Homo sapiens: one gene and its partner. The protein of the gene in region 2 purifies or fractionates together with the protein of the main gene of each other region. This does not show direct contact. Each region holds a gene or a part of one and is shown on either strand. Other genes may lie near its edges.

The links.
Region 1: the proteins of TUT1 (region 2) and SYMPK purify together in Homo sapiens (co-immunoprecipitation; one study listed by IntAct). This does not show direct contact.

What each region holds. Positions count from the first base shown.
Region 1 is NC_000019.10:45,846,146-45,849,797, reverse strand, and holds part of SYMPK (symplekin), read left to right. Parts: intron 1-921; coding exon 922-1,048; intron 1,049-1,796; coding exon 1,797-2,046; intron 2,047-3,652. UniProt on the Homo sapiens protein: Scaffold protein that functions as a component of a multimolecular complex involved in histone mRNA 3'-end processing. Specific component of the tight junction (TJ) plaque, but might not be an exclusively junctional component. May have a house-keeping rule.
Region 2 is NC_000011.10:62,585,006-62,588,657, reverse strand, and holds part of TUT1 (speckle targeted PIP5K1A-regulated poly(A) polymerase), read left to right. Parts: intron 1-3,652. UniProt on the Homo sapiens protein: Poly(A) polymerase that creates the 3'-poly(A) tail of specific pre-mRNAs. Localizes to nuclear speckles together with PIP5K1A and mediates polyadenylation of a select set of mRNAs, such as HMOX1.

The sequences.
Region 1 (3,652 bases), on a different chromosome or scaffold from region 2:
CTGGGATTACAGGCGTGAGCCACTGCGCCTGGCCAAGGCTGGGATTTTAACTCATGTCTGCAATGCCAGAACCCAAATATCCTATCTCCCCATTTACTGGGAGAATTTGTGGTAAATTTTCTGAATTTGTAAAAAGTCCATTCAGCAAATACATACCATGTGACTGCTGTCGTACCAGGCATCCATGTTAGGCTGTAGTATAGCAGTGAGCAAAAACGTATTATTCCTGCCTTCATGTAGCTGACAGCTAAGTTTCATATTTTTTGACTGATTTAATTAATATTTCAGATTGTAATGTATGCTGTGAAAATTCTGTGCTGAGCTCCTATTTATTCATTGAACATTTGTTGGAGGCCCTTCATTTTTTTCTTCAATGAAAATGACCCTGCTGGGGTTATTGCCAAGCTAGGAAAGGGTCCCTACTTTTTGAGCCCTCAGACTGAGGCAAGCAAAACTAGTGATTACAGAAAACAAAGTGCTTTAAAGTAGCAATGGCTGGTGTTTACCGAATGCTTTTTGGTGTTTACTGAATGCTTTCTGCATGTCAGGCACTCTTCTAAGCACTTTACAAGTATTGTTGCAATTTTCCCAAAAAATTGCATAAACAATTGGATAGATACTATTATTCTAAATGAGGTGAAGTCGCTTGTCCAAATTCACACAGTTGTCTGCCCCTACTGTCCCTTATGTGAACAGCAGGGCCCTGAGAGAGCAAAGGAGTTGGTGTTACAGGACCAGTCTAGATAGAGGGTTCAGGGGCGGCTCAGTCTGGAGGCACCAAGCACTGTTCCCAGCTTCTGGATGTGCCATTCCGGTCCCCTGAGACAGGTCCCTGATTTCCCTTCCCTCCTGGACCTCAGGCTCCTCCTACTTGCTCTAAGACCACACCTTGACCTCGCCCCTTTTTTCTCCATCCCTCAGCAAGCGAGACATTGAGTTGCTGCTGAAACTCATTGCAAACCTCAACATGCTCTTGAGGGACGAGAATGTGAACGTGGTGAAGAAGGCTATCCTCACCATGACCCAGCTCTACAAGGTGGCCCTGCAGGTGAGAGCGCCCTCCCCACCCAGGGCCATCCTGCCTGATATGTCTCGTTGACAAACTAATATGTTGGGGTTCAAAACCAGCATCCGAGCATACTCTTTATGGGCAAGATGTGCCACTGGTCTGTGGGAACAGATAACATGGAGAGCTAACGTTGTCTCCTAGGTCAGGAAGTTGCACTTAACCTTCATTCCTTCCATTGACCATCCGTTTATTCACTCAACAGACATTCCCTGAGTATGTCCTCTGTGCTTAGCCCTGGGCTAGGTGATGCTGGGGACACAGCAGTGACCAAGACAGCTTACTGCCTTCACAGTGCTCATAACCCAAGGAGGGAGGTAGACCTTAATTAATGAATCACATAAATATTGATTATGGAGTGTGATAGGAAAAGAACACTCTATGGTGTGATGTACATTAGCATTAATAAAACGAATGAATCCATTTAATCACCACCACCTTGTGAAGTCAGCACTGTTAGTCCTTTACCCTGAAGATGTGTGCCTTCATCACACTGAGTGGTCACTCTCTGCATCCCCATGAGGGCAGGGCGAGGCCTGGCCACTACTCAGTCCTGTCTCCAGCATCACCGAGCACTGGGCTGGGGCAGAGTTGGAACTCAGTAACTGTTAACCAAATGAATGTATTCATCATTCATGGTTCTCTGGGTATTGGCAGAGGGTGTTGGTGATTGATGCGTTGTCTTCACCTCTTTGTGTGTCTCTTCCATTCCTTCCTGGCCTGCTGGCAGTGGATGGTAAAGTCACGGGTCATTAGCGAGCTACAGGAGGCCTGCTGGGACATGGTATCTGCCATGGCGGGGGACATCATCCTGCTATTGGACTCTGACAATGACGGCATCCGCACCCACGCCATCAAGTTTGTGGAGGGCCTCATTGTCACCCTGTCACCCCGCATGGCTGACTCAGAGATACCCCGACGCCAGGAGCATGATATCAGCCTGGACCGCATCCCTCGTGACCACCCCTACATCCAGTACAGTGAGTACTGCCTTCAGCTGCCACCCCTGACAGCCCTGCACCAGTTTCCTCTCCTTCACGCCCCTCCCTCTCTCCCCCTTGTCTTTTTTGGTTTTAAATTTCTGGAACAGTGTGTGCAGTAGTTAAGATCCCTGGTGCTAGGTTCAGATCCCAGCTGCACTGCTTACTCATCATGAACTTGGGCAAGTTACCTGTCTCTGTACTTCATTTTCTTTTTTGTAAATTGGAGACGATAACATAGTACCACTCTCACAGGTTTGTAGTGAAGTTCCATGAGTGTGAGCCAGTCGATGCTAGCTAGTTTTATGGTTTTCTTTTTTTTTTTTTTGAGATGGAGTCTTCCTCTGTCGCCCAGGCTGGAGTGCAATGGCACAATCTCAGCTCACTGCAACCTCCGCCTTCCGGGTTCAAGAGATTCTTCTGCCTCAGCCTCCAAAGTAGCTGGGGCTACAGGCTCCCGCCACCATACCTGGCCAATTTTTTTAAAAATTATTTTTAGTAGAAGCAGGGTTTCACCATATTGGCCAAGCTGGTATCGAACTCCTGACCTTGTGATCCGCCCGCCTTGGCCTCCCAAAGTGCTGGGATTACGGGCTTGAGCCACCGCGCCGGGCAGTTTTACAGTTTTCTTAACTGCAAATTATAAAAGTAGGACATAGGCCAGGTGTGGTGGCTCATGCTTATAGTCCCAGCATTTTGAGAGGCCAAGGCAGGCAGATCACTTGGGGTCAGGAGTTCGAGACCACCCTGGCCAACATGGTGAAACCCCTTATCTACTGAAAATACAAAAATTAGCCGGGCATGGTGGCGGGCACCTGTAATCCCAGCTACTTGGGAGGCTGAGGCACGAGAATCGCTTGAACCCAGGAGGCAGAGGTTGCAGTGAGCTGAGACTGTGCCACTGCACTCCAGCCTGGGTGACAGAATGAGACTGTCTCAAAAAAAAAAAAAGTACTATATATACACTTGGTGTCAAGCAATATGGGTGAATCAAAAGGAATAATGTCCCCTCCCTCAGTCCTGCTTTCCAGAGATAAACACTGTTAAGAGTATTATGTTTCCTTTCAGATCTTTCCTGTGCACATGTAGGTATTTGTATGTGTATATGCATAGTGTCTGCATTTGTTTGCTTTTCTGTTTGCAAAAATGAGGCCATGCTTTGTGTTTTCATCTCAGAGACATTATAGTAGCTTGTGTCTGACACACAGCCTATTTTCCCTTGTCTCTGAGCCTGATTCCTCATTGGTAAATTGGGGATCGTTATTATGGCATCTAATTTAGGATGTAGGTATGAGCATTTGGTGTATTAATATGGCTGGAATAGTAAACATTCCATAAATATTAACTATTCTTATGTATTGTTTGACAGCCTTTTTGACTTAATAGTATCAGTGACGTCCTTCCCTGTGAGAATCATATAGTTGCTATACCATATTCCATAGTATAGTTACATTACATTCTATTAAGCAATGCTCTGTTGATGGTCATTTAGATTTTTAATTCACTTTTATTTTTTGAGACGGAGTCTCGCTCTTTCACCCAGGCTGGAGTGCAGTAGCGCTATCTCGGCTCACTGCATGCTCCGCCTCCCGTGTTCACGCCATTC
Region 2 (3,652 bases):
ACCAACAGCCTCTTTGAGCTGGTTCCTAATGTGGCTTATTCTTGATGGACATCACAGTACTTGGGCTAGACCAGCTTTGGGAGCTTCTCACACCTCCCCCACCCCTTGAATTTTTATTTTTATTATTATATTTTTGAGTGCAGTGGCACAATCTCAGCTCACTGTGACGTCTACCTCCTGGGTTCCAGCAATTCTCACACCTTAGCCACCCAAGCAACTGAGATTACAGGCGCGTGCCCCCATGCCCAGCTAATTTTTGTATTTTTAGTAGAGACAGGGTTTCACCATGTTGGCCAGGCTGGTCTCGAACTCCTGACCTCAGGTGATCCGTGCACCTCAACCTCCCCAAATGCTGGGATTACGGGCGTGAGCCACTGCTCCCAGTCCCACCCTTTGGATTTTATCACTTCACCAGAGTTAGTCACTGGGGGATTTTTTTGTGTGTGTCATCTATTGATTCAGTGAATTCTTTGCCAAATATTTATTCACAGCTAACTTTGTACTAGGCACTATGCTTAGGGCTGCATTCTGAGTAGTGAATGGGGTAGATATGGTCCCTGCTCTCACAGAGCCTATAGTCTAGAGGAGAAAGTAAACAATTAAGTAATTATAGTGAAAGTTGGTGCTTAAAGAACAACATACCATTGGATCAACTCCACAAGAACCTGGTTGATAAACCAGTTAGCAGTTTATTAACTTACACTGAGGGTACTAAGGTTGTTTGGTTAGAACACCCTGTCCTTTGGAGAGTGTTAGATAAACAAGCTTGTGCTTTTTGTGTTGCTTCCCTGTAGGTTTTGGTCCCTTGAAAAAAGTTCACTGTTGAGGTGCTGTGTTCCTTGGTCATACTGTGGTTCTGAGGCTGTACTCTTGTTATGTAGGCATGGCTTAGGTGATCCAAAATATCCCTTTGCAGCCCAGGTTATCTTTTAGAATGGGGTGGAGCCTGTGTTTGTTAGGGATTGCATTCAGCAACCAAACTACAAATGGCTTAAACAATAGGAATTTAGTTTTTCTCATGTAACAAGAAGTCCAGACCTGGACAGTTCAGGGCTTTGCTGTTTTCCTGCTCTGCCATTATTGGTATGTGGCTCTTCATAGTTACGATACTGCTGCCCCATATCTTCAGAAAAGAAGAAGGGGCAGCTTGTAGGGCAGAGTATAAAAGGTTAGTGTCGGCCAGGTCCAGTGGCTCACGCCTGTAATCCCAGCACTTTGGTAGGCTGGGGCGGGTGGATCATGTGAGGTCGGGAGTTCGAGATCAGCCTGACCAACATGGAGAAACCCCGTCTCTACTAAAAATACAAAATTAGCGGGGCGTGGTGGCACATGCCTGTAATCCCAGCTACTCGGGAGGCTGAGGCAGGAGAATCGCTTGAACCCGGGAGGCGGAGGCTGCCTTGAGCCGACATCGCGCCATTGCATTCCAGCCTGGGCAACAAGAGCGAAACTCCATCTCATAAAAAAAGGTTAGTGTCAGCTGAGTTTGAGTCCCCTCCTCTATTTTTTTTCCTTTTATTCTGAGAAAAATGCCTTTTCTTTTTCCTTTTTTTTTTTTTTTTTTTGAGAGGGAGTTTTTTTGTGGTAGAATTCTGGCCACTGAGATATAAGTAGAAGTTTACTGAGGAGGCCTTTAGAAAAAGTATTTCTCTCGACTGGGCACAGTGGCTTACGCCTGTAATCCCAGCACTTTGGGAGACTGAGGTGGGAGGATCACCTAAGGTCAGGAGTTCGAGACCAGCCTGGCCAACATGGCGAAACCCCATCTCTACTAAAAATACAAAAATTAGCTGGGTGTGGTGGCAGGCGCCTGTAATCCCAGCAAGCAATTCTCCCGCCTCAGCCTCCCGAGTAGCTGGGACTGCAGGCGCGTGCCACCACACCCGGCTAATTTTTGTATTTTTAGTAGAGACCAGGTTTCACCATGTTCGCCAGGCTGGTCTCGAACTTCTGACCTCAGGTGATCCGCCTACCTCGGCCTCTCAAAGTGCTGGGATTACAGGTGTGAACTACTGTGCCTGGCCTAATTTTTTGTATTTTTAGTAGAGACAGGATTTCTCCATGTTGGCCATGCTGGTCTTGAACTCCTGGCCTCAAGTGATCTGCCCACCTCAGCCACGCAAACTGCTGGGATTACAGGCGTAAGCCACTGTGCTCCGCCTAATGATTAACATTTTTATTGAGGAACTACTATGCATCAATTGTGTGCTAAGCACATTATGTACACTTGCATCTAATCTCCACAACATTCTCTTAAGGGAAATGGTCAGTAGGCAGTTGGAGATTTGGGAGTTTAAGACACTGCTTGTGAGGCAGTTACAAGTTACTTAACCTCTTTGAGTTTCAGTTTCTTAATTTGTAAAATGGAAATAATAATACATACTTCGTAGGTGTCTTATGAGCCTCAGACATCGTTTGTGTGAACTGCTTAGTTTATAATAAGCCCTCAACAAATAGTAACTCTAGCTATGGATGGTGGTGTTGAGAGGACAAAAATGGCAAGGACACAGGCTCCTTATTTTTATTTATTTATTTATTTGAGATGGAGTTTTGCCCTTGTTGCCCAGGCTGGAATGCAGTGGCGCGAACTTGGCTTGGGGCGATCTCAGCTCACCGCAAACTCTGGCTCCCGGGTTCAAGTGATTCTCCTGCCTCAGCCTCCCGAGTAGCTGGGATTACAGGCATGCGCCACCGCGCCTGGCTAATTTTGTATTTTTAGTAGAGATGGGGTTTCTCCATGTTGCTGGTCTGGAATTCCCGACCTCAGGTGATCCGCCTGCCTCGGCCTCCCAAAGTGCTGGGATTACAGGCTGGGATTACAGGCGTGCGCCACCGTGCCAGGCCTGTTTATTTATTTTTGAGGTGGAGTCTCATTCTGTCTCCCAGGCTGGAGTGCAGTGGCACGATCTTGGCTCACTGCAACCTCTGCCTCCTGAGTAGCTGGGTTTACAGGCGCCTGCCACCATGCCCGGCTAATTTTTGTATTTTTAGTAGAGACGGGTTTCACCATGTTGGCCAGGCTGGTCTGGAACTCCTGGCGTCACATGATCTGTCCGCCTCAGCCTCCCAGGGTGCTGGGATTACATGCATGAGCTACCACGCCCAGCTGACACAGTCTTCTGAATCTGCCAGTCCTGCCCTCCCTGATGCCTTCTGTGAGGTTTTGGAGAAAAATAGGAGCACAGACAGGCCCAGTGAAAGAGACTCTTAATTTCCATCTGGGGCTTTGGTTACAAACTTGGTGGTGTACTGCAGTCTGGTAAACTGTGGTTTATTAGAGTCAGAAGACTGGCCTGGGCAGGTCCAAGTAGCTACCTTTGTCCTTGGCCTCACTTCAGTTCTTTGCTGTGTTTGGCATAGGGGTAGAAGTAAGTCTGCGCATGGTGATGTGCCCCTATCATCCCAGCTACTGAGGAGGCTGAGGCGGGAGGTTCGCTTGAGCCCAGGAATTCAAAGCTACAGTGAGCTATAATCACATCACTGCACTCCAGTCTTGGTGACAGAGCAAAATCCTGTCTTTAAAAAAAGAAGGGTGTGGCCGGGCCAGGTGGCTCACACCTGTAATCCCAGCACTTTGGGAGGCTGAGGTGGTTAGATCACCTGAGGTCAGGAGTTTGAGACCAGCCTGGCCAACATGGTGAAACCGTCTCTA